4 separate regions of the Homo sapiens genome follow, and all the other regions are linked to region 2. The links come from fine-mapping of genetic effects on gene expression. A gene starts in region 2. Each other region holds a variant in brackets. All regions are shown on one strand. Distances are between the middles of the regions.

Evidence for each region. PIP is the estimated chance that this variant, and not a neighbour inherited with it, causes the effect.
Region 1: its variant is fine-mapped to the expression of MAPKAPK5 in fetal neocortex (Walker 2019, PIP 0.95).
Region 3: its variant is fine-mapped to the expression of MAPKAPK5 in whole blood (TOPMed, PIP 0.99).
Region 4: its variant is fine-mapped to the expression of MAPKAPK5 in whole blood (TOPMed, PIP 0.93).

What each region holds. Positions count from the first base shown.
Region 1 is chr12:112,202,370-112,210,473 of GRCh38, reverse strand. It overlaps HECTD4 (HECT domain E3 ubiquitin protein ligase 4), which reads left to right. Exons shown (of 76, transcript NM_001388303.1): 50 at 222-459; 51 at 1,844-1,980; 52 at 2,474-2,600; 53 at 5,851-5,988; 54 at 6,702-6,838. Among named protein-coding and RNA genes, the nearest start is that of MIR6861, 43 kb to the right of the region's middle. The variant AG/G (reference allele first, on the strand shown) is at 3,940.
Region 2 is chr12:111,837,307-111,845,410 of GRCh38, reverse strand. It overlaps MAPKAPK5 (MAPK activated protein kinase 5), which reads right to left and starts at 3,183. Exons shown (of 14, transcript NM_003668.4): 1 at 2,642-3,183. The coding sequence starts at 2,677. It overlaps MAPKAPK5-AS1 (MAPKAPK5 antisense RNA 1), which reads left to right and starts at 2,406. Exons shown (of 2, transcript NR_015404.2): 1 at 2,406-4,084; 2 at 4,934-5,644. RefSeq lists silencers at 838-1,006, 2,688-3,037, 3,118-3,297 and enhancers at 2,498-2,597, 3,328-3,607.
Region 3 is chr12:111,444,977-111,453,080 of GRCh38, reverse strand. SH2B3 (SH2B adaptor protein 3) reads right to left here. Exons shown (of 8, transcript NM_005475.3): 3 at 6,227-6,328; 4 at 6,048-6,139; 5 at 5,862-5,956; 6 at 5,537-5,751; 7 at 5,254-5,425; 8 at 1,458-5,098. The coding sequence ends at 4,779. ATXN2 (ataxin 2) reads left to right here. Exons shown (of 25, transcript NM_001372574.1): 25 at 241-867. The coding sequence ends at 269. Among named protein-coding and RNA genes, the nearest start is that of SH2B3, 43 kb to the right of the region's middle. RefSeq lists enhancers at 4,487-4,556, 7,677-7,946. The variant C/T (reference allele first, on the strand shown) is at 4,522.
Region 4 is chr12:112,340,741-112,348,844 of GRCh38, reverse strand. All of the region lies in intron 1 of HECTD4 (HECT domain E3 ubiquitin protein ligase 4), which reads left to right. Among named protein-coding and RNA genes, the nearest start is that of HECTD4, 38 kb to the left of the region's middle. The variant G/A (reference allele first, on the strand shown) is at 4,099.

The sequences.
Region 1 (8,104 bases), 370 kb before region 2:
TACATGAGAGTGTGAGGTGAGGGACAGGGAGGCAGGGCTGGCTGTACAGGGCTCTGAGCACAGGTGTGCTCAGTCCCTCCAGCCCCCACCTGGTTTCTCATGCCAGCACACACCTCGGGCTATTCTTCCAAGGTGACGTTTAGTGAGCTGCGCCTTGGGCTCTTGCAGAAATAAAAATAAACGTAAGTCTTTCCAAATCCTTCATTTGGTCTCCTTTCCAGAACACCAAAACCCGAGCTAACTTTGGCTCCCGGCCGTTTGCCTACGCGGAAGGGCAGGCCCACCGCAATGCTGCTGACCTGTGCACTGACCTAGCAGAAGAGATCAGCGCTAACTTTGAGGCCCTGCCTTTCGCCATGGCATCTGACAGTGACAATGATGCTGGCACCAGTATTGCATCAGACCCAGGCACTCATGGGCCACCATGCCGGATTGCTGCCGTGGCCACCGCTCAGCAACGTAAGTCACCTCCTGGAACTTACTGCCTCCATGGCTTCCTGAGACCATGAATGTTATGAATTCCATAAACCCATTGCACTTGAGCATCCTCATTACAATCAGGAGTTGCAAACTCACGTGCCCATTGGTAATGGGGTCACAGGCCTGGTGAAAGAAGGTGGGGAGCAGGATGAAGCACAGCAGACCAGAAAGTTCATCCCCATTTCCAGGAAGCCTGCTATGCCTTAGGGCAGCCAGTGCAAGACCACTAGAGCCCCAGGACTTTGTATGAAGTCTCCTCATGTCACAGTGTTACTCATTTTCAAAAATTGTCCTAAAACCAAGGTAATCACAGAATAATAAAATGCTAGGCAATGGATATATAGGCGTGCACTAAAAACTTTTATGATGGTCAGGTGAGGTGGCTCATGCCTGTAATGCCAGCACTTTGGGAGGCCGAGGTGGGCAGATCACCTAAGGTTGGGAGTTCGAGACCAGCCTGACCAGCATGGAGAAACCCCGTCTCTACTAAAAATACAAAATTAGCTGGGGGTGGTGGCGTGTGCCTGTAATCCCCAACTACTCAGGAGGCTGAGGCAGAAGAATTGCTTGAACCGGGAGGTGGAGGTTGCAGTGAGTTGAGATCGTGCCATTGCACTCCAGCCTGGGCAATAAGAGCGAAACTCCATCTCAAAAAAAAAAAAAAAACTTTTATGATTACTTGTAACAATTTTTTCATAAAATTAAATAAAACAGCTCACCAAAGTAAGGATGTCTGCAGGCCATATTTGGCCCATTGGATACTAGTTTGCAAACTGTTTTAAGATTCTGTTTAGGGCCAGACACTGTGGCTCACATCTATAATCCCAACACTGGGAAGTCAAGGAAGGAGGATAGCTTGAGCCCAGGAGTTTGAGACCAACCTAGGCAACACAGTGAGACCCTGTCTCTACAAAAAAATTTAAAAAATAGCCAGGTGTGGTGGCACACACCTGTAGTCCCAGCCACTCAGGAGGTTGAGGTGGGAGGATCGCTGGAGCCCAGGAGGTTTAGCTGCAGTGACCTATCTTTGCACCACTGCTTGCCAGCCTAGGCAACAGAGTGAGCTTCTGTCTCAAAAAAAAAAAAAAAAAAAAAAAAAAGCCTGTTTAGTTCTATCTATAGTGAAGGACTTTCTAAAGTCTTCTCTGAATTGAATGAATTATACTCATAAAAACTATTTTAGGATTCAGGGTAATTATAGATAATTAGTTATTCCTAGACTCTGTGATTTAACATTCCTCAGTGTACTAGGAGTCTTCCTATCATGCAAATTAAGATAATCTGGTTTGTCTAAGGGTGAGAAGTTAAGGATTTTTCTAGCCTGCTCTTGTTTAGAATTCGCTGTCCTTGTGCTCTGTTACAGAATATGATAGTGACACCTCCTGTCATTATAAAGTCGAGCTCAGCTATGAGAATTTCATCACCTCTGGCCCAGACCCTCACCCGCCTCCCATTGCAGATGATGAAAGCGATGATGATGACGATGATGACATCCCTCAGGTAAGAGACCCACAGGCTTAGATCAGGACTCAGCAGCATTTGCTTAGCTCCCTAGTGACTAGGACAAGCCTGGAGGAGTGATTTTGATGTGAGAGTGCAAAGCTGGTTTTGTTACTCTCAGTGACATCATTGTGCTTGAACAGTGACCTTAGAGTGTTAATTTTTCTAAACCCCTATCAATAGCGATATCCGTTGGGCCATTTTGCCCGGTGAAGATCCAGAAACTGGAGAAGTGAAGTGCTTTGCAATAGTTCAGAATCCTGTGAAAGTGCTTCTATGGCTTCTTTAGAGGGAAACGAAGAGCTTGCCCTAGTGTTGCTGTTCCCTGCCCTGGCATCTGGGGGTGTATCTAGTACAGGGGTCTATGTCTGATCTTTCTATTACTGGCATTTAAGTGGGGTGAAGACCTCAGGGTGAGGGCTGTAAGTTAGGGAAACAGTGATGCCTGCACCAGATATTCCTTCTCTGTTCATGAGGTTCCTTCTGCTTCCAGGAGGACCACTACGCCCTGCTGGTGAAAGCATGGGAGACCAAGGTTTTTCCTACCATCCGAAGACGCTTCCGCAATGAAGCAGAGCGGAAATCGGGCCTGGACCAGATAAAGGGGGCCTTACAACTAGGTCTGGTACTTTTTGTTCTGCTAAGGAGGTTACTTCATGACTTGAAGTGAGGAGCTGGATGAAAATCAGAATGTAAATCAGGAGAGACTCATCTAATGTTGCACCATACTTAACAGTGTCTTTGACCTTACCTTTAGTGAACTCTGATCTTTTGTTTTCATTGCTGGACTTTGATTTGCTTGTCAATTTAGCTGAATATTTTGGGTTGATGGGCTGCTGCAGTGAAGCTGGAGTGGTTATACTGGGAAACTCTGTGGTCTGGTGGTTAACAGTTCACATCTGAAGTCATACTGTTTACCAGCTGTGTGGACTTGAGAAAATTACTTAACATCTCTGGGCTTTCCCCATCTTTAAAATGGAATATGTGCTCTGCAAGGTTGATTTGGCAGTCTCTCACTGTTCCCTGATTCCTGCTTATTAAACAGTATTTTTGGCCGGCCATGGTGCTCACGCCTGTAATCCCAGCACTTTAGGAGGCTGAGGTGGGTGGATCACCTGAGGTCAGGAGTTCGAGAGCAGCCTGGCCAACATGGCGAAACCCCATCTCTACTAAAAATGCAAAATTAGCTGGGTGTGGTGGCACACGCCTGTAGTCCAAGCTACTCCGGTGGCTGAGACAGGAGAATCGCTTGAACCCAGGAGGCAGAAGCGGCAGTGAGCCGAGATTGTGCCACTGCACTCCAGCCTGGGCAAGATAGAACAAGAGTCTGTCTCAAATACATACATACATACATACATACATACATACATACATACACACACACACATATACATAAACAAACAGTATTTTTTTTCTCATACCCACTGTTCCTTTTGAAAACATTGCAAAGATTATTGTTCCCTAATCTTCTAATCTTAGGCCACAATTTCTTGTTTATTCTAACACTTAATTCCAAAAGCGTCTGTCTCTAATCACAGCACCCTTTTAAACTCTGCTCAGAAAATTGCCATGCTTTTTCCTTACAGTAAGACCAGTGAATAAAAGAATGGTAGATAGGTGGGATGGAGTTAGGCCTTGTGTAAAAAAAGCAGATTCTAGGCCAGGCATAGTGGCTCACGCCTGTAATCCCAGGACTTTGGGAAGCCAAGGCAGGCGGATCATGAGGTCAGGAGATTGAGACCATCCTGGCTAACACGGTGAAACCCCGTCTCTACTAAAAATACAAAAAATTAGCCAGGCATGGTGGCAGGCACCTGTAGTCCCAGTTACTCGGAAGGCTGAGGCAGGAGAATGGCAGGAACCCGGGAGGCAGAGCTTGCAGTGATCAGAGATCACGCCACTGCACTCCAGCCTGGGCAACAGAGCCAGACTCCGTCTCAAAAAAAAAAAAAAAAAAAA[AG/G]CAGATTCTATCAACACCCACTTTTTTTATTATTTTTTTGAGAGAGTCTCGCTCTATATTAACTGGGCTGGAGTACAGTGGTGCAATCATAGCTCATTGCAGCCTCAAACTCTTGGGCTCAAGAGATCCTCCTGCTTCAGCTTCCCGAGTACCTGGGACTACAGGCACTCACTACCAAGCCTGGCTAATTTTTTTATTTTTTGTAGTGACAGGGTGTTGCTATATCCCTCAGGGTGGTCTTGAACTCCTGGCTTCAAACAGTCTTCCCACCCGGGCCTCCAAAGTGCTGGGATTACAGGTGTGAGCCACTGCCCCTGACCAACACCTGCCCTTTCACCCACAACGTCCTGGGCACTGTGGGGCCTAAGGCAACAACAGGATATGGAGGAATTGTGCCCATTTTGCTTTCCTCCCATAATGCTTTTCCTCCCAGGTCTTTGGACATTTAATTACTTGGTTTATTAATTAATAGTAGCTGTTGCTATCAAACATAATCGTATGTTCTTTCTCTGGGAAGAAAGAGCAATCTCAATAAGTGGATAGAAGAAGCTCATATAGCCTTCTCTCTTTCTTAAACAAGCAACATGTGTTTATTGCAGTAAAAATCAAACAGTACAAAAATATAGAGAGAAATAAACCTGGCCAGGCACGGTGGCTCACACCTGTAATCTCAGCACTTTGGAAGGCCAAGGCAGGCGGATCACTTGAGGTCAGGAGTTTTGAGACCAGCCTAGGCAACATGGTGAACCCCCATCTCTACTAAAAATACAAAAATATTAGCCGAGTGTGGTAGTGCGCGCCTGTAATCCCAACTACTTGAGAGGCTGAAGCATGAGAATCACTTGAGCTGGGAGATGGAAGTTGCAGTGAGCCGAGATTGCACCACTGCACTCCAGCCTGGGCGGCAGAGCAAGACTCTGTCTCAAAAAAAAAAGAAAAAGAAAAAGAAACGTTACCCTCACTTTCTTCTTCCTCTCCATTTGTCCTGTAATTTGTTATTTTGAGTTAACGAAAATGAAATAACTGCAAAATAATGGACCATTTTTAGTCATTTTGTACTGATGAACACTTCGGTTTTTTCTACTTTTTTGCTATCTACCAACAGTGCTACTTGCTCTGTCTCCCAGGCTAGAGTGCAATGGTGCAATCTCAGCTCACTGCAACCTCCACCTCCCGGGTTCAAACAGTTCTCCTGCCTCAGCCTCCCGAGTGGCTGGGATTACAGGCACCTGCTACCATGCCCAGCTAATTTGTATTTTTAATAGAGACGGGGTTTTGCCATGTTGGCCAGGCTGGTCTCAAACTCCTGACCTCAGGTGATCCACCCACCTCGGCCTCCCAAAGTGTTGGGATTATAGGCGTGAGCCACTACGCCTGGCCATTTTTTTTTTTTTTTTTTTTGAGATGGAGTCTTTCCCTGTCATTGAGGCTGGAGTGCAGTGGCGCCAGCTTGGCTCACTGCAACCTCTGTCTCCTGGGTTCAAGCAATTCTCCTGCCTCAACCTCCCGAGTAGCTGGGTTTACAGGCGCCTGCCACCATGCCTGGCTAATTTTTGTATTTTTAGTAGAGACGGGGTTTCACCATGTTGGTCAGGCTGGTCTTGAACTCCTGGCCTCAAGTAATCTACCTGCCTCAGCCTCCCAACGTGCTGGGATTACAGGTGTGAGCCACTGTGCCTGGCCTTAGTGCTTATATTTCTGTGGAAGAGATTTGAGACATTCCTAAAAGTAGTACATTTAGTATTCCAAACATGGTAGATACTGCACAATTTCCTTCGCCAAAGGGTTATGTACTTTCATAAACAATGTTTGAAAGATTCCCTTATCATTTCACTCTACATGTAAGTCAGTGTCATGGTTGATCTGTGTGTACTCTTTGGGGAGTTACCCTGTGCTGTTATATTTTTTAGGTATGGTGGATATTGCCCGACAGACGGTTGAATTTCTCTACGAAGAGAATGGTGGCATCCCAAGAGACCTTTATCTTCCCACCATTGAAGACATTAAAGACGAAGCAAACAAGTTCACAATTGATAAAGTTCGAAAAGGTTTTGCTTTCCTCCTTACTCGACCTATGAAATTTCCTATGAAATGAGAGGTTGAATTTTCCTTAATGTGCACAAGCAGCTGGTGGTTCTCCTAGGGTGACTCTCCTTACTCCGACTGGGCTAACCTCTTCCACACCGCCCCATGTGAAGCCCTAGGGCAACCCTGGTGGGGCCCTTCCCACTTCCCAGAACTCAGTAGCATGAGCTGAGTGGGGCAGGCAGCTGCACAAGAAAAGAGGTAGGGCCTGGGCTCCATCTCTACTAAAAACATAGAAAATAGCTGGGCCTGGTGGCGCACGCCTGTAATCCCAGCTACTCTAGAGGCTGAGGCAGGAGAATCACTTGAACCTGGGAGGCGGAGGTTGCAGTGAGCCGAGATCACACCACTGCACTCCAGCCTGGGCCACAGAGCAAGGCTCTGTCTCAAAAAACAAACAAAAAATTCTTTGCCCATTTTAAACTGGCTTATTTGTCTTTTTATTCTTCAATTGTAAGAGCTTTTACAACGTTCTATTATATTACCTTCCAGACTGAGTTGTGTTCTTGCTTGGTTATAACAAAACTGAGGGTTCTGTTAAAGCCCGTAGAGCTATTTTATTTTATTTTATTTTATTATTTTATGTTTATCTGGAGAGCTATTTTAGATGCTAAATGTAAGAACCCAGATGCAGTGGTACTTTTTCCTGAAAAACTTCTCCCTCTACACTCCTCAGGTCTCACAGTAGTAACCCGCTCTCCAGACAGCAATAATGTAGCCAGCAGTGCTGTTGGAACTGCTCTGCCAAAATTTGCCATCCGAGGGATGCTGAAAACCTTTGGGCTTCATGGAGTCGTCTTAGATGTTGATTCAGTGAGTGAACAGCCATTCTGATTAATAAGCTATTTTATATATACTGAGGCTGTCATACCCAGATTCCCAGGTACCTTAAAAAGTGATTATACAGATGAGTTTCTCTTCAAATCAGGGACGAAGACACAAAGCAAAAATGCTCTAATGCCAATTGACTTGCCTGAGCTTTCCTCAGGGACTCAGATCAGGGCTGGCAGTAGATGGTAGGCTCTCCAGTCTCAAAGCTGTGGCCGCCTTCAGACCACACCACCTCTACCATTATTTTCTGTCCGACATGTTCAAACTGTTCCTGCATTATATCTACCCAAGTTCCCAGGGAAAAGTCCCCATTGTCCTTGATGAATGGATGATCTGTCATTGCCATGATGGTCATACAGACACAAATCAAAGAAATAGGCTGGGCGTGGGGCTCACACCTGTAATCCCAGCACTTTGGGAGGCCGAGGAAGGAGGATTACCTGAGCCCAGGAGTTCGAGACCAGCCTGGGCAACATGGCGAGACCCTGTCTCTACAAAAAATTAGCTAGTCATGGTGGGCATATCTGTAGTCCCAGCTATGTGGGAGGCTAAGGTGGGAGGATCGTTTCAGCCTGGGAGGTCAAGGCTGCAGTGAGCTGTGATGGCGTCAGTGTTCTCCAGCCTGGGCAACAGAGTGAGTCCCTGTCTCCAAAGGAAAAAAAAAAGAAAAAAGTTTTGTCATTTTGATCACATCATCTCACTGATTCTCTCAGCCTCAATTTCCCTATCTGTAAAATGAGTGTATTAAACTGGATCAGTGGTTTCCTCCTCCATTTTGCAAAGCTCTCTCCTAGGACACAGCTAGGACTTTTCGGGAAGGGGGCAGAGTGAGAGAGGACAAGGCCAAAGCTTTCTTTTGAAAAGAGACTCCTGTTTGAAAGCCATGACTATGTGATTCTGAGGTTGCATGCCCATCCTTGTATTTGAGAAGCTTCCTATGCAGGAAAAACTGGTGAAATAATATACAGATCAAGCCTGAGAGTCTCTGATAAAATATTAATATCATCAATCACTGTATAGATATAAACTTTGGTATCTGTCTAGAGAGAGATACAGATGATATTAGGTTCCATTAATGCTTTGAAATTTACCTTGAAAAATTTACATCTTTAGGCCAGATGTGGTGGCTCATGCCTGTAATCCCAGCACTTTGGGAGGCCGAGGCAGGTGGATCACTTGAGGTCAGGAGCTTGAGACTAGCCTAGCCAACATAATGAAACCCCATCTCTACTAAAAATGCAAAAATTA
Region 2 (8,104 bases):
GCCAAGGCGGACAGATAACCTGAGGTCAGGAGTTCGAGACCAGCCTGGCCAACATGGTGAAACCCCATCTTTTCTAGCAATATAACAACAATAACAACAAAATAGCAATAACAACAAAAATAGCCGGGCGTGGTGGTGTGCGCCTGTAGTCCCAGCTACTCGGAGGGCCAAGGCACAAGAATTGCTTGAACCTGGGAGGAGGCGGCTGCAGTGAGCCGAGATCACACCACTGCACTCCAGCCTGGGTGACAGAGTGAGACTCTGTATCAAAAAAAAACATAGGGTGAGATTTCAACTGAGTCTACCTAGAGAAGCTATAACAACCACTAAGTGACATTGCTGCCCTATTTGTATACTTATCTCCTGGAACTATGTCTCTCTTCTGTTCAAAACTCTCCTATAGTTCCCCTTTTAATCAGGGTCAAACCCAAAGTTCTTACGATGGCCTACAAGGCCCTAAGTGCCTTGCTTCCCATTGCTGCTCTACATCATCTCCACTGACCCACTGCATTCCAGCCACCTTGCTCTTCCTACATCACACTACACCTGCTTCTACCTCAAGGTCTGTCCTTGCTATTCCCACTGCCTGTTATACTCTTCCCTGAGACAGTGGTGGCTTGCTCTCGCATTTCCATCAGAACTCTACAGTGTCACCTCCTCGGACTACCCTATTTAACACAGTACTCCTCACCCTTTCCACACTTAATTAAAACCACCTAGCAGTAACCCCACCCTCTAGAATATAAGCTACATGACAGTAGGGACATCTAGGAGTCTGGCTTGTACCATTTGTGTCTAGGACACCATCTGGCACACAGGAGACAATGTTTAAAAACTGGCCACATACGCTTTGATTCACAACCCAATTAAATAACTTCAGGCGGCATATCATGCCTCTGTGCCAATAAAACCCAAACCAAGGCTGGGCGCGGTGGCTCACACCTGTTATCTCAGAACTTTGGGAGGCCGAGGCGGGCAAATCATGACGTCAGGAGATGGAGACCATCCTGGCTAACACAGTGAAACCCCACCTCTACTAAAAATACAAAAAAATTAGCTGGGTGTGGTGGCACGTGCCTGTAGTCCCAGCTACTGGGGAGGCTGAGGCAGGAGAATCACTTGAACCTGGGAGGTGGAGGTTGCAGTGAGCCAAGAGCATCCCACTGCACTCCAGCCTGGATGACAAAGCCAGACTCCGACTCAAAAAAAAAAACAAAACCCAAAACAAAAGAAGGATATGTCAAGGCAGTCTTTTAGAATCTTTATGATTTAAAACCTCGTCTTCCTTGGGCCAGGCACGGTGGCTCACGCCTGTAATCCCACCATTTTGGGAGGCCAAGGCGGGCAGATCACGAGGTCAGGAGATCGAGCCCATCCTGGCTATTACGGTGAAACCCCGTCTCTACTAAAAATACAAACAAAAGAAAAAATTAGCAGGGCGTGGTGGGTGGGCGCCTGTAATCCCAGCTACTCGGGAGGCTGAGGCAGGAGAATGGCGTGAACCCAGGAGGCGGAACTTGCAGTGAGCCAAGATCGGGCCACTGCACTCCAGCCTGGGCGACAGAGTGAGACTCCGTCTCAAAAACAAACAAACAGACAAAAAACCTGGTCTTCCTTAATGTATATGTTATATGTTGATGCCTCCTTTAAAGGGTTAAGTTTCTTTGGAATGACTTGATGATTTTGAGAAACTATATACACCACCTAAAGAATTGGTAGAAATGTAAATTCTTAATCATTACTAGTAACTGTCTTGAAGGGGAAAATAACCCCAAGCTGCCAATAGATGCCTGTCCTTCAAGATAAAATGAAATTATTCAATGCACTGGGCTGACTTAACACTACAAATAAGTAAATAATACATCAAACTTTAAGCGTCAATGTTTAATTTTCATAAGACTAATTTCTTAGCTACAGCTGTCAAGACAGATAACTGGCCCTGAGTGGGCAAAATGTGCCTTTAAAAAAAAAAAAAGTTAAAAACAGGTTTTAGAAAACTTATTTTATTTGTGTAATTTTCGAACACACATTTGCTTTTCTTTTGGTTTAAGTGCAGTTAAGTCACAGGAACTGTTAACTTTTCCTAAGTAAACTCAATGCTTCCTAGGAGAAAGAAGAGGAAAAAGAAAAAGGGGAGAATACACGGAAAAGTGAGGACAACCTATTCCCCAAAGGACAGGTTTTGTACGGCGAACCACCTTTTTCCAACTGCAGATTTCCAGAAGGCTGATTTCAAACAAATCGGGAGGGATGGATAAATTCCAACTCTCCAAGTTCTGTAGACCATCCGGAAGCAAATGCTGGCGGCCTTGGGGAGTGATCGAAACGTGTAGTAGTAGTAGTAGGGCTCTCTTCGTCCCATTCATTGACACTTAATAGTGTCTCCAGGCCACTCACCTCTGTTCCAGCTGAGCACAAATCACACTCACCAGGGAAGCTGGCGGGAGTCGGACACACACCTACACCCACACCCATAACCCTTGGCCCCAGGGCTGTAAAGCGCGATCCACGGAATCCGGGGGAGGCCGAAACCCGGTAGTCGATGGAACCTCTCACTGCAAAATCTCCCTGCTTTTTGAGGCTAGAGCCGAGAAGAACGCCACAGGACAACGCGGGGGAAGAGGGGGCACCTCCCCCTTACCTTGATGGCTTTGTCCATGTCGCTCTCCTCCGACATACTCAGTGGGGCCCCCACAGCCGGGAGAGGCGGAGGCTGCTCAGCAGCCCTGTCCCCGCGCGGCCGAGGGAGCAAAGGGCTCGGCACTCGGGCCCCTGGGCCTCGTGGCGACGGGCAGCAGCCGCCCCTCGGGACCGGTGGGGATGAGGACCCCGGCGCCGGCTCTGCTTCGGCGGGCGGCTCTAGGCTGGCGGCAGCAGCAGCGGCGGAGGCGGCGGCCCCTGGGGACAGGTCTTTGTGCTGGGCCCCACGCGGCCGCCTCCTAGCCTCATCCCCAGCTGGGGAGGCAGGCTCCTGGGGTAGGGCGAGGCGGGGAGGGCCTCGACCCGGGGCGCCGTGCAAGGGCCTCGCGGGGCCGCCGCTTAGACCTGGGCTCGCCAGGTCCTAAAGAAGAGCCTGCGCCTCCGCCTCCGCCGCCTGCACCGCCGCGAAGCCGAAGCCGAAGCCGAAGCAGAGCTCGGCGCCGCTGCTCCCGCCGCCGCCTCAGCGCCACACATCGCCGGGACACCCGCGCCGGGCAGCCCCGCCGGCCGCCCTCACGCACGCGCTGTGCCCCGCGGGAGCTCCAGGCCGCCCCTCCTGCCGCCCAGCTTCGTGACTCCACGGCCCCACGCGCCCCTTGCTGCCTTCCGCTGGGGTTTCCGAGCCGCCCCCGAACCGCGCACCCGACTTGCAGGCGTCCGCCTGGGCCTCCCTAAGACACGCCGCATACAGGACAGGCCCCTGGGCCTTCCGCGGCGATGGCGCTGCGCTAATGACGTCATAGGCCCGGACTCGCGTGAGTGCGCGTGCGTTGGGGCCTCAGCCTTTATCTCCACTCTGCGGAGATTCACGCCTGGAAAACGCTCTTCTGAGAGGATCTGTGGAGGTCAACCCAGGAGAGAGAAGACAGGACTGAAGCACTGAAAGGGTCCTGCCGTTAAGGGCGCAGGATTGTATAGAATATATAATAGCAGTAGCAGCTCTGTTTACGGAGCATTAACCTTACGTGGAGTTATTTCCTGCATTTCCTCCTTTCGTCTTTACAAGGTAGCCGTTTGGCGTCGTGAGGTATGGATGTTCCCATCCCTAATTTGCAAAATAGGTAACTGAGGCTCAGGAGAGCTAGACTAGTTTGTGCACAGCCGAGAAGTGGTCAAGCTAGAATGGGACCCCAGGTTTGTGCTCCCTACTCTCCACCGATAACCTATCAAAGGGCTTTGCAAGAGCTTTTGACTAATCGTCTGTCAATGGTTCTTCATTCACGTATTAATTGCACATCAGTATGTGCCAAATCTACTAGACATTGGAGAAACAGTAGGAACAACACATGGTACCGGCACATGGATCTTTCAGGAAAACGAAGTAGGTAATAAACAGGAAAAAGCCCGAGTCTGATGCTAAGAAGAACATAAACAGGATGCTGAGGTAAGAGAATAACTGGATGTGGGGACTTCTTCGTATTAGATGATTAAGGAAGGAATCTCAGGAGGTAACATTTAAGCTGAGACCCCTGAGGAATGAGAAAGGGCTGGCTATTGGAAATCCAAGGAAAGATTTCTGGGCAGATGGGTAGAAATTTTAAGGTGGAAATAAGCTAAATATGTTCAAGAATCAGCAAGAAGGTCATTGTAGCTGGAGTAGATCGAGTAGGAGGAGACTGATAAAGGGTGAGGTTGGAGGCTGGGCGCGGTGGGTCACGCCTGTAATCCCAGCACTTCGGGAGGCCAAGGCGGGCGGATCACTTGAAGTCAGGAGTTCGAGACCGGCCTGGCCAACATGGCGAAACCCCGTCTCTATTTCAAAAAAAGAAAAAAAAAAGTATAAAAAGGATGAGGTTGGAGATGTGGGCAGGGGCTGCATCATATGTGGCCTTTGGGGGTCATAATCAGGACTTTGGATTTTATTCTAAGCTATTGTAAGGTTTTAAAGTAAAGAGTGATGTGAACAAATTTGTTTTAAAAGATCACTCTGCTTTGTAGAGAATAGAATATAGGAAAGCAAGAATGGAAACAGAGCTATTAGGAGGCTATTGGAGAATAATGCAGATGAGAGATTATTACACTGTCTGAACTAAGGAGGTGGCGGTAAAGGTGTAGAGAAGATGGATTTTTTTTTTTAAACGGTCCCACTGTCTAGAGTGCAGTGGCGTGATCACAGCTCACTGCAACCTAGACCTCCTGGGCTCAGGCGATCCTCCCACCTCAGCATCCTGAGTAGCTGGGACTATAGGCGCATGCCACCATGCCTGGCTAATTTTTCGTATTTTTTTTGTAGAGATTGGGTCTCTCCACATTGCCCCGGCTGCTCTCCAACCCCTGAGTTCAAGTGATTCACCTCCCTTGGCCTCCCAAAGTACTGGGATTACAGGCGTGAGCCACCGTGCCTGGCTGAGAAGATGGATTTAAGACATATTTTGGAGGTAACATTGTCAGGACTTCCTGAAGGATTAGATGTGGAAGGGAAGGATAAGAAACAGACCAAGGATAACTTTCAAATGTATGCTTAAGCAACTGGATGGATAATGATGCCATTGAGTGAGTGAAAAACTTGATGGAAGTGGAAGATTCAGAGTTCATTTCTATCTAGGTTAATTTGAGACATACCAGAGCATAAGTTAAGTAAGTAATTGAATATTGGAGTGGAGACTTATTTGTCTACCGAATTATTGTTTTCTTTGTCGGACATACACCTACACTGCATTCCTCAAAGTAAAATTTAAGTGTGGCTCTGTGCCTATGCTCTCCCCAGCGGAAAGTGACCAGAAGAGGTGTGCAGTTTCCAGGCCTGGCCCATACAGACCTCCAACAGGTGCTCCCCTGTGCTGTTACTCCTTCTGCCAACTGGAAGCAGATGGTGACCAGGCTCTGGAGAAGGCAAGGCCTGAAGATGGGAGATTCCTAAGTGGAGGAGAACTGTGCCTTACTGACCTAAATATCCACTCAGTATTGTTATGTGAGAATAAATAAACTTGTGTTGACCGTTTACTTACTTTGAGTCTTTTGTTCTAGCAGCTTTGCCTATGCTACCTAATATGAATAAGAGCAATGATCCCGCGATGAACTTTGGGAGAAAATTTTTAAATGACTTCAGTTGACATCTGTAACAGGAAATATTCGTGCAAAAGTAATTGTGGTTTTTGCCATTTAAAAATAATGGCAAAAACTGCAGTCATTTTTGCACTAACCTATAGAAGATGCCTTGGATTTATTCATTCATTTCATCCAGTAAGAATTTCTCTCTGCCAGGCTCTATGTCTTGTAATAGAGATGCAGAGATGATGTCGTATAATAGAGATGCAGCAATGAAGAGACAAGGTCCCTGCTCTCAAGCAGCTTTTAGTCTAGCTGTTCAACTTACCGACTTATTTGCACGTGCTTTCCCACTACCTAGAAACTCATGCTTCCCTCATAACACACACACATACACACACAGCCTGGTTTCTACTCATTCTTCAACTTTATTCTTCTTTGAGGCGGAGGCTCACTGTGTCCCCCAGGCTGGAGTGCAGTGGTGCGATCTCGGCTCACTGCAACCGCCGCCTCCTGAGTTCAAGTGATTCTTCTGCCTCAGCCTCCCGAGTTGCTGGGATTACAGGCACCCGCCACCACGCCCGGCTAATTTTTGTATTTTTAGTAGAGACAGGGTTTCACCATGTTGGCCAGGCTGGTCTCGAACTCCTGACCTTAGGTGATCCGCCCACGTCAGCCTCCTAGAGTGCTGGGATTACAGGCGTGAGCCACCACACCTGGCCAATTCTTGATAATGTTTTTTCAGAAAGGCATGCCTTGCCCATACCCTCCTTTCCTAATCTAAATCAGATGTTCCTATTATCCTGTAACTAAATAATCTCAACAAGGGAAAGAATCTTATTTGTCTTATTGGTCATATGTCCCTAATACCCAGTCCATTGTAGGTACTTAATAAATTTATTTGTCGAAGGAATCAATGAATGGAGAAGGCAGAACCCTGAAGAAAGCGGTTTCTTCCAATGAAATTCCTCTGTTTTTTGCTGGTGTGGCAGCCCTGGTTCACAGCCTCCAGTGATGCTCACATCTTGGTATTTATGATCTTATGTAGTCCTCTCGCCCTGCATGTGGTCTGGATCAAGTGGTTTGCTTTCAGTGAACAGATGTCATGTTCAAGATTAGGTAGCAGAAAAACTCTGGCTTCCATTGGGGCCCTCTCTGACTCTTTTACTTATCTGCTCTTAGGGAAGCCAGCTCACTTGGTTCCTAAGGCTGCTGTAACAAAGTATCACAAATTGGGTGGCTTAAAACAACAGAAGTTTATCCTCACAGCTCCAGATGCTAGAAGTCTGTAATGAATGTGTCAGCAGAGGCCGAGTACTGTGGCTCACTCCTGTACTCCCAGCACTTTGGGAGGCCAAAGCGGGCAGATCACTTGAGGTCAGGAGTTCGAGACCAGCCTGGCCAACATGGTGAAACCCTGTCTCTACTAAAAATAAAAATAAAAAAATTAGCCAGTGGTGGTGGCAGGCACCTGTAATCCCAGCTACTCTGGAGGCTGAGCCAGGAGAATCACCTGAACCCGGGAGGCAGAGAGGTTGCAGTGAACGGAGACCGCACCTGTGAACTCCAGTCTGGGCAACAGATCGAGACTCTATCTCAAAAAAAAAAGTGGTGGGGCACGGTGGCTCATGCCTGTAATCCCAGCACTTTGGGAGGCCGAGTTGGGCAGATCATGAGGTCAGGAGATCTAGACCGTCTCAGCTAACACGGTGAAACCCCCCATCTCTACTAAAAATACAGAAAAATAGCCAGGTCGGGTGGCGGACTCCTGTAGTCCCAGCGACTCAGGAGGCTGAGGCAGGAGAATGGCGTGAACCCGAGAGGCACAGCTTGCAGTGAGTCAAGATCACGCCACTGCACTCCAGCCTGGGCGACAGTGTGAGACTGTCTCAAAAAAAAAAAAAAAAAAGTGTCAACAAAGCCATGTTCCCTCTGAAGGCTACAGGGAAGACTCCTTCCTTCTGGTGGCTCCAGACAGTCCTTGGCATTCTTTGGCTGTATCACTCCAGGCTCTTCCTCTGTCTTCACATGGCCTTCCCTGTGTGTCTCTCTGTGTCCTCTCCTCTTAATAAAACAGTCGTTGGATTTAGGGCCCAACATCATCCAGCACGATCTCATCTTAATTACATCTGCAAAGACCCTATTTCCAAATAAGGTCACATTCTGAGCTTCTGTGCAAACATGAATTTTGGGGCAATATACTATTCAGTCCATTACAGACATGGCGAGGAACTAACATCTCTTACCAGCTGCCAGTGAGTACCTAAGGACTACCCACACATACATGAGCTTAGAAAGGATACTCACCAAATTGAGCCTTTAGCTGATGGCATCCCCAGCCCACAACTTGATCGTGGCCCCGTGAGAGACTATGCCAGGCGCACCCAGCCAAGCCATACCCAAACTCCCGACCCAC
Region 3 (8,104 bases), 390 kb after region 2:
ACCCCATGAACAAGTCTTCTGGGAGTTTTATCTGAAGTGGTTTTACGTCTGACTGGTTTGTTTCTACCCACCCACCCAACCCTCCCCACTTTGGTGCAGATGGGAGGGGGAAAAGCGAATTCAATTTTGAGTTTTGTTCAGCTAGCACGAGGATAGTTTACAATCATGTGCTGCAGAGACACTAGGCTGATGTGTGGTGTTGCCAGTTTTCTGTTTCAATGTTCGCTTTTCTTTTTACAGTACAAGCCCACCACCAACAGCAGTTGTAAGGCTGCCCTGGAGGAACCGAAAGGCCAAATTCCCTCCTCCCTTCTACTGCTTCTACCAACTGGAAGCACAGAAAACTAGAATTTCATTTATTTTGTTTTTAAAATATATATGTTGATTTCTTGTAACATCCAATAGGAATGCTAACAGTTCACTTGCAGTGGAAGATACTTGGACCGAGTAGAGGCATTTAGGAACTTGGGGGCTATTCCATAATTCCATATGCTGTTTCAGAGTCCCGCAGGTACCCCAGCTCTGCTTGCCGAAACTGGAAGTTATTTATTTTTTAATAACCCTTGAAAGTCATGAACACATCAGCTAGCAAAAGAAGTAACAAGAGTGATTCTTGCTGCTATTACTGCTAAAAAAAAAAAAAAAAAAAAATCAAGACTTGGAACGCCCTTTTACTAAACTTGACAAAGTTTCAGTAAATTCTTACCGTCAAACTGACGGATTATTATTTATAAATCAAGTTTGATGAGGTGATCACTGTCTACAGTGGTTCAACTTTTAAGTTAAGGGAAAAACTTTTACTTTGTAGATAATATAAAATAAAAACTTAAAAAAAATTTAAAAAATAAAAAAAGTTTTAAAAACTGATCAAGTTAGTGTGTGTCTGTATAAGCTACTTCTTTGTAGGATACTTAATATCAAAGCAGGTGTGCTAAGGGTGCATTTTGAATATCCCGGAAGGTAGCTGTGAAATGATTTTTCTTCTTCACCCTTAGTTCTGGTTCAAGGTATCTCTAGAAAAAGACAAGACTGAGCTATTCTCTTTGGTGGATTAGAGATCTGCTTCAGGAGGAGGAAGGTTGGCCAGAGTTGGGCAGCACTGAAATTCCACATCCTCGGGCTGACACCGATTCTGTAAGCTTCCTTTTTAATATCTCCTGAACCAAAATGAGTGTCATTAGCTGGAAGTTCCCAATTCGGGCATTTTTCTACTTTACCAGTAGGGGGCAGGAGACACTCAGAAAAAAATTGCAATAAAGAAATCCAGAGGGCATGAAGGCTGAAAAGATACAAAGATGTACAAAGCTGCTTATTGACATGGATGGACTCATAAGCATTTGTTAGTATTCCCAGATTGCAACGGGGAGGACAAAGGGAAGAGCGAGTATTTGGGCAGGGCAAGGATTTTGTAGAGACACCATGGTCTTAATAGAGCCTTTAAATATTATGACAGCAAATCAAGATTCTGAAAACTTTTTAATTCACATATAGCAATTTGTACATTATAGCAAAATTTGCATTATTCAAGAATAAGTTACTTGTACAGTACATAAAACAATACATAAAAATTTGCCAAATACCTTCTGCCTATAATGATACAAGATGAATCCACTTTATGTTATCACAATGTGCTGTATATTCTAACCAAACACAGGATGTCAGATGTGTCCTTGTTAATATACTCGCAAGTTCCTCTAGCTTGTGGGAGATGTTAGAGCTAACACATTTGCAGTAAGGGACTTAGTCCTGAATAGAAAGCATGAAGGAATCTCAGGCAACCCTCAGGGAAGAGTCCAAGGCCTTGACTTTAGGTTAAGAAACTGTTATGTAAAAATAGTGTTCTCTGGCCCAAGATTTTAATGATTGCTATTCCTTTTTCCTACGGTCCAGAAATGATCAAAGGCAGAAGATTTATACCAGATAAAGCCATATGGATTGCTGGTCTAAAATTCAAGGCAGGTTAGTTGACTTAATTCTTTGGTGCTGGTGACTGTTAGTTTGTAAAAGTTCAATAAGTCAGATGAAGGAAGGGATGGTGCCGGGAGCTGTCAAGCTGTACTGGTGGGGTCTGTAATTAGAGCTAACTGGAGGGATCATGATGTCTACTGTCCAGTTTGGTGTTGAGCCATGGCTCTCGGTAGAAGTTGCCGGCTGGGGCCTGGTCAGGACTGGAAGGAGAGTGGTGGGATGTGCTGTGCCTATGGTGGGCTAGCTGCAGCCAGTGGGGTGCCTGCCCCACACTGCTGCCCACCCCTTCATCAGCTGATTCTGCTCCCACATAAAGAAAGGTGTTGGCTTAGTGTCACTTCTTCCTAGAGCCATGGGAGTTTTCTGTCAGCATGTTTTTGAGCTGTCCTGGTAACTTGGACGGGAAGCAGTCTGGAGGTGGGTGCCTTCCAAATCTCTGCCACAGAATCTGAACTTGCACTTTGCAGCCTGTTAGTCAGAGCTGCTAAGTTTGCTCTACCTGGTGTGCCTCTTGGCACCACCTGAGAGATGTATGTAGAGAGGCTGCTAAGAAATGAGTGCCCCTGGCATGAAGACGTCATATCCCAGATGTTTAACTTCTGGCTGGAGGGAGGGAACTTAATTTGGTTCATTATCTACTGGGTACCTTTCCTGTGCGGAGGGGAGGACCAGTGACTTTCCATAATAAGCTTTCTCCTTTAAAAAAACTTCAGACTCTTACTTACTCTTTTGGTTCACACTAATTAGCATTCATTTTCCAGAGAAAGCTGCTTGACTTTGAGGAAATAAAGACAGGTGTCCTTAAAAATGGACTGCAAATCTGGATCAGTGTCAGGTCTGCTTTAGGGTCCATGAAATCACCCAAGAGTGTTGGTACTAAAAGTGGTGTAGGCTGGGCGCGGTGGCTCGCGCCTGTAATCCCAGCACTTTGGGAGGCCAAGGCGGGTGGATCACCTGAGGTCAGACATTCGAGACCAGCCTGGCCAACATGGTGAAACCCTGTCTCTACTAAAAATACAAAATTAGCCAGGCATGGTGGCTGGTGCTTGTAATCCCAGCTACTTGAGAGGTCGAGGCAGAATCGCTTGAACCAGGAAGGTGGAGGTTGCAGTGAGCCAAGATTGCACCACTGCACTCCAGCCCGGTTGACAAGAGAAACTCCATCTCAAAAAAAAAAAAAAGAAAAGTGCATAGGGGTTTGTTCCCCCACCCTCTGAAAGACCCCAAGGAAATTCTAGAAGCAAAAATTTGACCTCTTGGAGCACAGAGACTAAGTATAAGTGGAAGAAGCAGACCTAACCCTCCTCCCAGGCAGTCAGTCCTATGAGTTTTAGGCTGAGGTTTCATTTTAGCCTCTGATCGATGTATCTGTAAAGCTGATCTAAACTCCCAGTTTCCTAGAAGCCACTGCTGTGAGCCTGGGGGTTGTACTGAATGGCTCTGCTGGCACCCAAGAGCAGCTGACTCCACTGTCACTGCCCCCGTTTCTGAGCCTCCAGACAGGTTCTGGGAGGAGCCAGCCCCCTATGAATTGTATCACTTGTATAGATAGAGATTTGACTTCAGGACCTCCCTGGATGGTGGAGATTGTGTGTGCCCATGTGTGCAAGGAGATAGATAGATTCTCAATCCAGTGAAGCAGTAGCCAGCTAGAACAGAACACTGATTGTGGGCTATTAAAGGAGTTTCTCATTAGTTATGGCACCAGATTCCCAGCTTCCATTTTGGCTCAAAAAAGGAGCCTAAAACCCACTTGTGGGATAATTTAATAAGCCATTAGATGCTTGGAGGGCACCAAGCCAGCCTTGTTGCTGAAGGATTTACTAGAAAGGGCCTAGGAGTCCTTCTTCCCTTTTTGCTTGCTCTTCCCCTAGCCCCAGTTAATTTAACTATCACTGTAAAGCTGCTGTAAACCAGAATCCAGTTTTTTATTCGTAAGGCACCAGGATAGAACTGTTCTTGCCACCCTCCTATTTCAGTAATTGCCTGAATTTCCCTGAAAGGGTGACATACTTCACTTCTTGACATTTAGGAAGGACAGTGGCCACTCAGTGGCAGGTGACTGTCCCGAGGATGCAGTAGACAAGCCAGCATGCTGGCTCAGACTGTAAATTAGGTAGGGTTTGCATAGCTGTTTCTGACTACAAAAATAGCATGGGTGTTAGTTGAAACAGTGCACTGAAATAAGCAGTGGTTAAGTTTTGAACCTGAATCCTTTAAAGAAATTAGTCTGAGGTAAAATGTTTTAAATCATTTTTGACCTTCAGCTTGTGCCTCTGACAGAGCTTTTGTCCTAAAGCTGAGAGTAGAAGCAGGATTAGATGTGGTCATCTGTGGTGTGGACACAGCAGACCTGCCATGTGGACTGACGGTAGATGGGAGAACCGCTTGTTAGTGTTCTGGGCTTCCTGATGATCCCCCCCTCCTCCCCGTAGAAAGTCTGTCATCCGCTGTGACAGTGTCAGTGAAAAAGAGAACAAGTTTCCACTGCCAGCTCTGGCCCTCACCCCAACTCCTTTCTCTAAGAGTAACGGGGACTGGGCATAGGGACCC[C/T]GGGCAGGAGCTAGCGGCATCCTCTAACAAGAACTACATCTGTAAACAATAAGGAGAAAGCCAGGTGGATAGATGAAACCTACAGGAGGGCCCTTCAACAGGCCTAATAGAAGGGTCACTTCCAAACTGGCACGAGCAGTTAACAGTGTCCCTTAAATCTTTCTCTGGAAGGAAGGAAAGATCAATTACATTCACAAGTTCACACTTCTGCCTGTGCTCCTCAAGGGCAGCTGTTGAGGCCTGGAATTCCTCACTGGTCAGAGAGGTGTGTACTGATTGTCTATGGCCCGCAGGTGGCTCCGGGAGGATGAGTCCATTTCGTAGTCCGAGTCCCGGGCTCGATTCACAGGCTCATGCTCCAGGTGCTGCAGGCTGTTGGCCAGTTCTTCGGGCGAAGGCACCAGGTGGAAGATCTGCTCGGGGGGTGAGGATCGCCCTGGGAGACCCTCTGGGCTGAGCCCCCGGGGACAGCCAGAAGAACTAAGGTGGGGAAGGCCCAACTCTGAACCCCAGTGAGGAAGGGACTCTGAATCCCAGTGAGGAAGGGAGAAAGGGAAGAGGACCGTGTTGCAGGAACCTAGGACAAGTGACCAAGAGAGACCACACCATCAGTCTTGAGGCAAGTGCTGACAGGACACAGAACAAGATACCTGTACCCCTGGGTCTGCAGCAAGCCTCTACCCTCTACCCAGTGTCAGCCACCCCCTTCAGCAAAGGGCAGTAGGGTCAGACCTGGTGGTTGGGAGACGACTACCACGTAGCTGGAGAGCCGGACATCACAGGCGGCGCCGCACTCGAGTGGGATGGGCGAGCGCTGGAAGTGGTGGAGCATGTCCACGACCGAGGGAAAGTGGAGGTGCTGCACACGGCACTGGCCCCGCTCTGTCAGCGACAGGCGCAGGTGCTGTGGGAGGAGAGGATGGTGGGCTCGGGCTGTCCCTCTAGGACCCTGAACTCCAGTGGAGAGGGGTGGCACGGTCCTGCCTGCCCCACCCCACCCCACCCCACCCCATACCTTGGCTATCCCCTGAAAGTTGAAAGTGAGCACGTATTCCCCACGCCGCGTCTCGCTCTGCCGCACCAGGAACACTCCATGAGCATCAGGGCCCTGCAGCTGAACCAGCTGAGCTGCTTTCACTCTGGAGATGGGGCCGTGGAACCAGGGGTAGCAGGACAGGAAATGGTCCGTCTTCTGGCAGGCCGGGTCCAGCAGCCCCCCAGGAGAAGCACCTGTTAGATAAGATGGGTGATGGTGGTCGCAGGGGGCTACCTTATGTCCTGGGCTGAGTCTGGGTTCCAGCGTACCCAGAAGACAATGGCCTAGCTATTGGTTTACCCACCTTGGTTAAGGGAATCTGTGCTGCCCCTTGGGGAGCTGGACGTGCTAGGCTCTAGGGCTGAGGGAATATGCATCTCTGCTTCTGTGCTCTCCAGCCTGCTGGAGAAGAGGCTGAGGTTAAGGATCTGGGCAGGTCAGGGGTGGTAGCAGCAAAGGTGGTGCCAGGGACGAGGGCCCAGGACCTCACCCTCGGCCTGTGCACTCCGAGAGCTCAGCCATCCATGAATTCAGCTGCTGCTCGTCTCCCACCTCAAAGATGATGTCTGTCCGGTCCTTCACCTGGCAGGGAGGAAGGGAACAGGGTTGGGTCTGCTGTATGTGTATGTATTTGTATTGCCCCAGGGTGTGAAAAGCCTTGTCACTCACCTTCAGCACAAAGGTGTAAAGGTTGTCAGGCATCTCAAGCCGTGTGCACCACCGGACCTCCTGGATGCTGGAGCAAGCTGCTTGTAGCTTGGGCCTTGAACTCTACGAGACCAAGTTGGGGTACTCAAGGCTTGTTCCTGATGCTCTTTCTTCCAGCCAGGCCTGAGTTTGTCTATAGTCTCCCCAGGAGTCCCCCTTTTAGAGAGAGTATCCATGGTGTTGCTGGGCAGGCTCTGAGCCTGTAGTGAGGTCCAGGGTGCCTTCCCCTAGCCTCCTGAACACCATTCACACTGAGATCCCAAGAAGCATGTGCTGGCAGAAGGCCAGCCCTCCCAGCCCATTGGACCTGGACTTGGAGACATTCCCACTCTGCCATGTGTCTGACATCCGTTTCTCTTCCCACTGGTGAGCAAACAGCTCCCTGCCCAGCCAGGTGATAGCAGCTGCTGACGGTCTCATCACACCAAGCCCAAAGGGGCAGAGCCTAGCATGGCTAGCCTAAGTTATAGCCACTGTAAAACCACAAAATCTTGGCCCTGGACCTTCCCAGGACACCCGGCACATAGGGCTGCAGGGTGGATAGGAGTTAGCCACTGTTCCTTTGCCAGCAGGAAACCTGCTCCCAGGTCTCAACTGACCCTGCAGATGCTTCCTGTGCTGGGGCACTCTGCAGCCAAGGAGCCAGCTGCTTCCGGTTGGGAATCTGCTCAGGAGGGGGTTTGCCCCTCCCCTTCCTCTTGTGATAAGACTGAAAAGATGGCCGAAAGAAGAAAAGGGGAGAAAGAGATGAGATAAGGAATGGACAGAAGTGGCCCCACTGGGCCCCCTCCATTCAGGTGTTCCTGGAAAATACTACAACCCCTAACAAACTGGGAGCAGGGGGATGGAAAGCAGAGGCAGCCCAAAGGATGTTCTAGCAACTGTGGCTTCAGGTGATCTGACCTCCACCTCAGCCCAAAAGGGCATACCTTGGACTGGAGCTGCTAGTGCTGTTGAATTGACCCCCAAAACCAGATGCTTAACCTTGCTTTACACACAGAGCTGCCAGGTACCTCTGTCGGAAGGATCATGACCCAGTGGCCTGGCCACCTCCTTTATCCCCCTTCCCCACCTGCAGGAGAGTCAATGAACAGTGAGGTAAGAGGGCAGCCTGGCAGGAGCAGGATGGCCACCTGGGCCCTTCCAGCAGGTCTCCTGGGAGCTCCCGGGCCTGCTCTGGTTGGCGGACACAACAGGCTGGGGGAGAGTAATGACTGCAGGAATGACCAACACTGGCCACAGCTCACTGCGGCCTCTCACTAGAAAGCTGCATGACTAGAAAATTCCAGCCTGAAGTGACCAGCACCAGCCAGGGCATTTTCACCTCCTACTCCCAGAGGTCCAGCAGCCAGGATGAGGCAGGCAGAGTGAGGCCTCACATGGCATCCACACGGGCACTGGACACAGCGCAGTGTGCAGGGAGTGGGGCCTCTGCGCTCTTGCCCATTTTTACAGCCAGCCAGCCCTGCAGAGCCTTCATTTCCTGTCTGCAAGATGGGTAAGGTGCGAGTGGCCACTTCCTTCTGCTACTTTTCCAGTTGGCCCTGCCTGGCCCCCACCCTTCCCCCTAGCTGCAGGCCTTAAGGATCACTGGGAGGATATAGGCCAGGCCTGGAGGGGAACGGGCCTAGTCTCCCTTTCAGTTCCGCTCCAGGCCTAGTCCCCAGTGTCAGTGCTGAGATTAACCAGCAGAGCTGCCGGTTTCACTCTGACTCTGGCCCCTGCAAGCCAGCTCCACCCCCAGCAGCTGAAGAACTGCTGAGCAGGCAGGCAGTGGTGAAAAGAGGATTCCCCTCCTCACCCACAGCCAGCCTGGCTGCCACCTGCCTGCTGGCTGAG
Region 4 (8,104 bases), 500 kb before region 2:
TACATACATAGGTTTATATATAAAACCTATGCATGCACTTTTATTTATTTATATATTTTTTCATTTCTTGCTAATATACACTTTTTTTTCCCCAAAAGATAGGGGGTTTCACTTTGTTGCTCAAGCTAGCTAGACTGCGGTGGTGTGATCATAGCTCACTGCAACTTCGAATACCTGTGCTCAAGCAATCCCAAGGAGGTGGGACTATACGCACACACCACTGTGTCCAGCTCATCTTTTAATTTTTTTTTATAGAGACAGGGTCTAGCTATGTTGCTAGGCTGGTCTCAAATTCTTGGCCTCAAGCGATTCATCTGCCTCGACCTCTAAAGTGCTGGGATTACAGGCATGATCTCCCGGCCCACATTTTTTATAAAAATAGGATTATGCTCCACATAATATTTTAGTGAATATAAGTTTTAAGTTTTCCATCTATAGTTCTGTTTGATACAACATTCAGGAGCATTCTAAAACCTATTTCAAGGGCATAGTAGAGTCTGTTTGGTGAGGCTTATTTCTCTCAACTATAAAATTGATAGGTTTCTCACCTCTTGCTTTAGAGGTCGCTTATAAAAATAGAAAGATGCTAGGGTTACCCAGATAAAGTATATGCTCCTCCTAATGCATTCCCTTGTAGAACTACTCTTGTGTTAATCTAGTTTATTTCTTAATATCAACCATAACTTTTCTCTGTGCTGCAGCGATTTGATTAAATTTAAAAATTTTTTAAGTTTTTCCACCTGCAATTAGAATGCTTGGTCTTTAAAATGTTCAGATTATAAAAGTTCATGGTGTTCTGCTATTTTATGGTAGATCTCTATGGCCTATCCAGACTCAGAAGCGAACTATTTCTGCTCAAGACTGGGGCAAAGATAGAGGCAGAGCCCATGAGGTGACAGCCTGAAAAAGCTCAAGCATGGAATTCTGTATATTGTCCTGTTACACGTCATCCATATAAATGGAATGTGTGTACAGTTCATCTGGCAAGCAATTGGCATGAGAGCAAACACAGCTTGGGCTAACATACTGTCCTTATGTTCTAAATCAGCAGTTCTTACCACCTGCCATGGGGCCCCCATCTCCTTCTGCCCTGAGCATCTTGGCTTTAGGAAACCACAGAGTGTGATGTCTTTCTCAGCTATGTTGGAATAGAAGAAAGGTTGTGAATCATAGCTCCACTAGGGTTCTGACGTATGATATTTGCATATTGATGGTTAATATTAGGTAACTGAAGTGCAAGTAAATTCCTTAAGTTTCCCTGGCTTTGTATTTCAATTGCTAGGTTCTTCCCAATCCGGGAGTCTCTGTTTTCTTTTCTTTCTTTTTTGTGTTTTTGAGACAGGGTCTCTCTCTGACTCCCAGGCTGGAGTGCAGTGGTGCAATCTTGGCTCACTGCAACCACTGCCTCCCGGGTTGCAAGCGATTCTTATGCCTCAGCTTCCCAAGTAGCTGGGATTACAAGCGTGCTCCATCACACCCGGCTAATTTTTGTATTTTTGTAGAGATGGGTTTTTGCCGTGTTGGCCAGGCTGGTCTTGAACTCCCGGCCTCAAGTGATCCACCCACCTCGGCCTCCGAAAGTCCTGGGATTACAGACATGAGCCACCATGCCTGGCTGAGTCTCCTTTTTCAAAGAGCCTGCTTGACAGACACCAACTCATTTATCATCAGATATTTTTTATTCAACATTTGCTCCTCCTTCCTGAAATATATAAATATATATTTTATATGATAAATGTATATATTTATGAAAAAAGAAACATGAAAAGTCGAGGCCAGAGGAATTGCAAACTGTAGTTAGAAGGCCAGATTCAACCCACAGATTTTGTTTGATGTGCAGAGGTTTTCAAAAATACTTTGAATACCTTTAGGAGGGACATGAATTCTCCAATTTGCCTTGGGCACCAACATTTCCAGTATATATGGATATATGAAATACTAATCCAAATAATTGATAATAATTGATAATTAAGAGCTAGGAAAGCTCTGATTTAGGAATGTGAAATTCTGTCTCCTTTTCTCGTATTTTAAAAAAGGAGAGCAATCAAATAGAGTGGTCACTCAACATATTGCCCTGCTCCTTTCCCCACCACTGAGTTCTGGCTGGGGAAAATATGACTCTCAGAGCAACTGTCGGGGCTGGAGAAATTCAAGAACTATGGCAGCCTCAACACAAAAATCTTTCCTGATTTATGTTATAAAGTGACAATTTCTCTCTCTCTCTGGAAAGCCAAGAGTAGCTTCAACTATAGATGGTCTAGGTTTTGTTTGTGCTTGTCTTGGAGTGCAGTATCTGGCATTTAAATAGCTCATCTTGCAATGAGAGCCAGTTTATATGTAGTAATAGGCTTCATCCTAAATAAAAAGTTTGAGTGGCAGTCGAGGGTGGGCAGAGTTTCTCAAGCTGCACCTGGTAAGAATTGCTGGTATGTACCAAAGTGATCTGAGGGGAGGGAAAGAAAAGGAAACAAAAGGAGAGAGAGAAAAGAATTTCTGGGATGCCTGTTAAACATGCAGATTCCCAGGATCTCTGGCAGAAGGCATAGGGGGAATATGATTTTTTCACCAGTGCTCAAGGTGATTCTTATCAGGTGTGTGTGAGAAACACAGGTAATGTGGTTCACAAAGTGGGCTCTGAGTTTAGAGACTGCCTTTTAATTCTAGTACACCAATTACAAGTGAGGTAACCTTGGCCAATGGGTTAACCTTCTAAACCCGCAGTTTTCTCACCTGTGAAATGGGGCAGTCGCACTCCTTAGCTACCTCATGCTGTGGTTTTCCAGGTTAAGGACTATAGCGAATGGAAGCTTCTTATTCCAGCACATCATAAACATTTGGTAAATGTTTCTCCTAACTACCAGACTTCCTGTGAGTTCTTGAGCCATAGCTCCAGAACATTCAGGAAAGATCCATGTTTGCTTTCTCTTCTTTCTTTCTTTATTTTGTTTTTGAGACGGAGTCTCGCTCTATCGCCCAGGCTGGAGTGCAGTGGCACGATCTCTGCTCACTGCAAGCTCTGCCTCCCGGGTTCACGCCATTCTCCTGCCTCAGCCTCCCGAGTAGCTGGGACTACAGGTGCCCGCCACCATGCCCGGCTAATTTTTTGTATTTTTAGTAGAGACGGGGTTTCACTGTGTTAGCCAGGATGGTCTTGATCTCCTGACCTCGTGAGCCACCGGCCTGGCCAGCTACTTCCTGTTCTTTCTAAAATAGCATCTTACAAAAGCCATACATACTCACCTGACAAAATTTGAAAAAGCAAAAGGAAGAAAAGATAAATTACTCGAACCTCATTATTTCATGAATTTACTTCCAGGCTCTGTAACAAATGCCATAATATAATTAATATATAGTTAATTTTCTCTTGTAAACTAATTTTCCTCTAATTGCTTATTCTGGTATTTACTTTTGTGTTTCTTATACTATTAAGGTTTGCTTGTTTGGTTGGTTGGTTTTGTTTGTTTTTGTAGACAGGAGTTAGAGTCTTGTTTATTGTTTTCATATCGTTTCATTGTCCTGGTTTTTTTCTTCTTTTTTCTTCTTCTGACCTTGTTCTTCCATCACACTTTTTTTTTTTCTTTTTTTGGTAGGGGATAGGGTCTTGCTCTGTCACCCAGGTTGGAGTGTGCAGCAGGGCCATCATGGCTTACTGCAGCCTCAACCTCCTAGGCTCAAGTAATCCTCTTGCCTCAGCCTCCTGAGTAGCTGGGACCACAGGTACATGCCATCACACCCTACTATTTTTGGCAATTTTTAAAAGATGGAGTCTTACTATACTAGTCAGGCTGGTCTTGAACTCCTGGGCTCATGTGATCCTCTTGCCTTGGCCTCCCAAAGTGCTGGGACAGGCATGCACCTCTGTACCCAGCCTGATCTTATCTTTTATCTTCTCTTCTCTCTTCTCTTCTCTTCTCTTTTCTTTTTTTGAGACGGAGTTTCATTCTCATTGCCCAGGCTGGAGTGCAATGGCGTGATCTCAGCTCACTGCAACCTGTATCTCCCAGGTTCAAGCAGTCCTCCTGCCTCAGCCTCCCAAATAGCTGGGATTACAGGCATGCGCCACCACGCCTGGCTTATTTTATATTTTTAATAGAGACG[G/A]GGTTTCACCATGTTGGTCAGGCTGGTCTTGAACTCCTGACCTCATGTGATCCACCTGCCTCAGGCTCCCAAAGTGCTGGGATTACAGGTGTGAGCTACCACATCTGGCCCTGATTTTTTTCTTAATCCAAACATTTTATATGTGATAGGAAAAACTCAAGACAGTCCAGAGACCTACTGCCATCTTCCCCCCAGTCTATCCTCTTCTGTATTCATACTTATGTGCCTCTGCCCTGTTGACCTTTTTGTGAGCTCTGAGTTAAGCTAGTTTTGGAGTTTGTATTTTGAACAGAAGTGTTGGATGGCTTGTTTAGTTTCTTATAGTGTGGCGGTTTACCAGGTCATGTTCTTTATGCATAACACTCATCTGAATTGTTACAGAAACCAGAGGACCAGTTATAACCCCCCTGCAGTTTTTGGTTTTCAGTTTTAGTGTTTTGCTAAAACAGGACATTCTAGGATATTTCTGTAGTTGTTGTTGATTTTTCTCCTTAAAGCCATTAAGGGTTGGAAATACTTGGAGTTAAAATTCTAAAAGTTGTCCCTTACAGTTTTAAATGAGTGGAAATCAAAATTTATTACTAAAAGTTGTTAAATGATCTACAGACTTGCCTTAGGAAGCCTTGTGGAGAGAGATTTAGGATTCACATTAAGCCCTATTCAAAACCCATTCCATTTTCCTCCCTGCCATAGTTGGCGTCCTCCAGGCAAGTTCATCTCAACTCTTAGCTTGTTCAGTCACAAAACCTGAAGATGCTACCCATCGGAGCTATTCATACAGTATTGTCTTTTTAAAAACATCAATGTTGTTATATGCATATTTTTGCAACTTGTTTTTTTCACTCAATATCTGGCCTCAGCTTTATTCACATGTATATCACTCAGCCTCTTTATTTTTTAACTTCCTCACAGGTGATTTAGCCCTTCTCCTGTTGGTAAATATTTTAGGTTGATTTCACTTTTTTTTTTCCCAAGAGATGGGGTCTCTCTGTCTGTTGCCCAGGCTGCAGTATAGTGGCGTGATCATAGCTCACTGGAGCCTTGAACTCCTGGCCTCAAGAAATCCTCCCACTTCAGCCTTTCATGTAGCTAAGACTACAGGCTTGTACCATCATGCCCAGCTAATTTTAATTTTTTTTTGTAGAGGTGAGGTCTTGCCGTGTTGCCCAGGCTAGTCTCAAATTCCTCACCTCAAGTGATCCTCCCTCCCTGGTCTCCCCAAGTGCTGGGATTACAGACCTGAGCCACCATGCACAGCCTCAGTTTTTTCTCTAATACAAACAGTGTTCAATATTTTTGTACCTTCAAATGTTTTTTAATCCTTGCAGTGCATATTACTGCTTTGTACATCAGAAGCCATGTCATACATAAAGCTTGTTGAATTGCATTTGGAACCTGCTGTTTAATTAATTTATTTAGAAATAGTGTTCAAAGAAATAGAATGTCAAATAATTTGAAGGATAGTTTTGAAAGAATGCTACCTATGTGCTGTGGGACATCAAGGATGCAGGTTAAACCTTTTACAACATATTTATGTAACAAAAATATGTTTAAGCCTAAGTGGTTGTACATTTATTTTCTGTTATATTTGGTACAGCAGATTTCCAGTGTAATAAAAAAAGATTTGACATGTCTTTGGAGGTGATTTTGCTGTAGCTTTAGGAGTTTTTGTGAAATTCTAAAATTGTACAGTTATATGATTTTGAACATAAAAGAAGGAAACTTGTTTCATTTTACTAGTAACCTCTGAGTGTTACAGAGTGTTGTAAATTACATGTGCATCAGTGTAATAAATTACAGTGTTTTTGAAGGAACTTTCTAAGAAGTAAAATTTTTTGGTTGTGATTTATGCTTCATTTTAACTGTTACATTGCTTACTAGGGAAAGGATTTCTTTGGTGAAAAAGCATATTGGAAAGAGAAGTTGAACTTTAGATGTCTTGTGACATCACAGAAGATAGGTATGACATGGCATAATTTGGCATACGTGGTTTTGGCAGCAAAAATTTAATCAGATCTCACAGAGGCAACTTCTTGCTTAAAATCCATTTTGCACTAGAGTTTTTTTCAGTGTTCTAGAATATTTTCGTGTATTCATCCTGTAATTACTTCTAGGCAAAACTGTAACTCAGATGCGATAGTAAAAGCAGCATTAAGATCAGGCAATTTTATATATTTTACTTCAATAATTGAAACAATTCTTAGAAGTTTGAAGTTATAGGTTCCAAAGAAAGGTCATAAAAACTAGATTACATTTCTTATTGTTTTTTGTTTGTTTGTTTGTTTTTAAATAGACAGGGTCTTACTCTGTCACCCAGGCTGGAGTGCAGTGGTACGGTCATTGCTCACTGCAGCCTCAAACTCTTAGGCTCAAGCGATCCTCCCACCTCAGCCTCCTGAGCCTGTAGGACTACAGGCATGCACTATCACAACTGGCTAATTTTTAATTTTTTTGTTGAAAACAGGGTCTTCCTGTGTTGATCGGGCTGGTTTTGAACTCCCAGGCTCAAGCAATCCTCTTGCCTTGGCCTCCCAAGGTGTTAGGATTACAGGTGTGAGCCACCATGCCCGGCCTTTAGTGTTTTTCTGATCATGGGATAGGACCAATAGTTCAACAATAAATCCTTTTGTGAGAGATTTTATTGTACTTAATGTCAGATGGCAATAGTTAGCCTTCAACAATAAATCATTTCATATATCAAAAAGTGAAGCTATAGGTTATGAGCCAATTTAGGCTCTCTGAGGTCCAAATGAGAGGAAAATGGATGAGCAAACCTTTGGGGTCTAGAGTCATATTATTTTGGGTGAGCAATGTTTGTCATATATTAGCTTCACCAGAAAATTTTGCCTTTGGATATAAATCCATTTCAACCAAGAATTTCTGGATTTGTCCCTGGTCTGCTAAGATGGGAGTTGAATGACTATCTAAGTACTATCTCATATGGTTAAGCTTTGTTTTATCTTCTTTTTAGTGGTTTATCCTTAGATTGCTTGCTCCCTGCCCCCAACACATATTAAGTCTTAGCTGGGAAAGGTACATTTAATTTTAGCTAGTCGGTTAGTTTTTCTGAACATTTGTTCTTTGCAGACTGAGGGAGACAGATGGATTTGAATTCTAAAGTGGAGTCTTTTGATGTAGCAGAAGAAATAACCCGTAAAGCGATAGACGAGGTTTCCAGGGAGTTTTAATTAGTCAGGCACAGCTGTGAGCAGGAATTGACAGGAAGGGCAAGATTCAGTGGCATAAAATAGGTAACCTTTCTTATGTTTCTTAGAGGGACTTAGTGGTCAGCCATAGTTATTGGGAATTTTTATTGAGTAGTCACTGGGTGCATATTCACATTCAGCCAAACAGTTACAAACCACAGGTTTAGAGGCACAGGTTAATGCCTCTGATCTTAAAAAAGGTGAAGGGTCAGAAGTCTCAAACAGAAGTGCTGACCTGGGAGTGCATTTGGAAGTGGTGCCTTATTGTGTCTGTTGCTCCTTCTGTAGCTTGTTTGTCTTGTTTGGGGGAGCATGTATGTTCCCTAGCAGGTGGCATTTTTAATGTATGTGCACTGACAGGTAGCATTTTTAATCTGCTGCTCATTCAGTAAATATTTGTCTAGCATCTATTATGTGCCAAGTTCTCTGGCACTTGTGATACATTGGTGAGCAAAACAGACAAAGCTATAAGCTATACTGACAAGAGTTTAGAGTTAATTCGAAAAAGATTTTTAAAAATAATATTAGTAAATGTTATTGAGTGCTTACCTTGTGCCAGGTATTGTGTTTTGTGCCTCATTTCAGGAGAAACTATTCAAGACACATTGAGGTTTGAATGCAGAAGGTATAAAGATGAATTAATGTAAATCCCCACCCTTGAGCATGCAGTCTATCAGCATCCTTCTGGTACCTAATAATTATATATAAAATTTGTCAAATTCGGCACATGAATAGAATCGTTCCTATGCACAATTCTGAGGATTGATAAATTTTGCAAACAGGGGCTTTCTATATCTTTT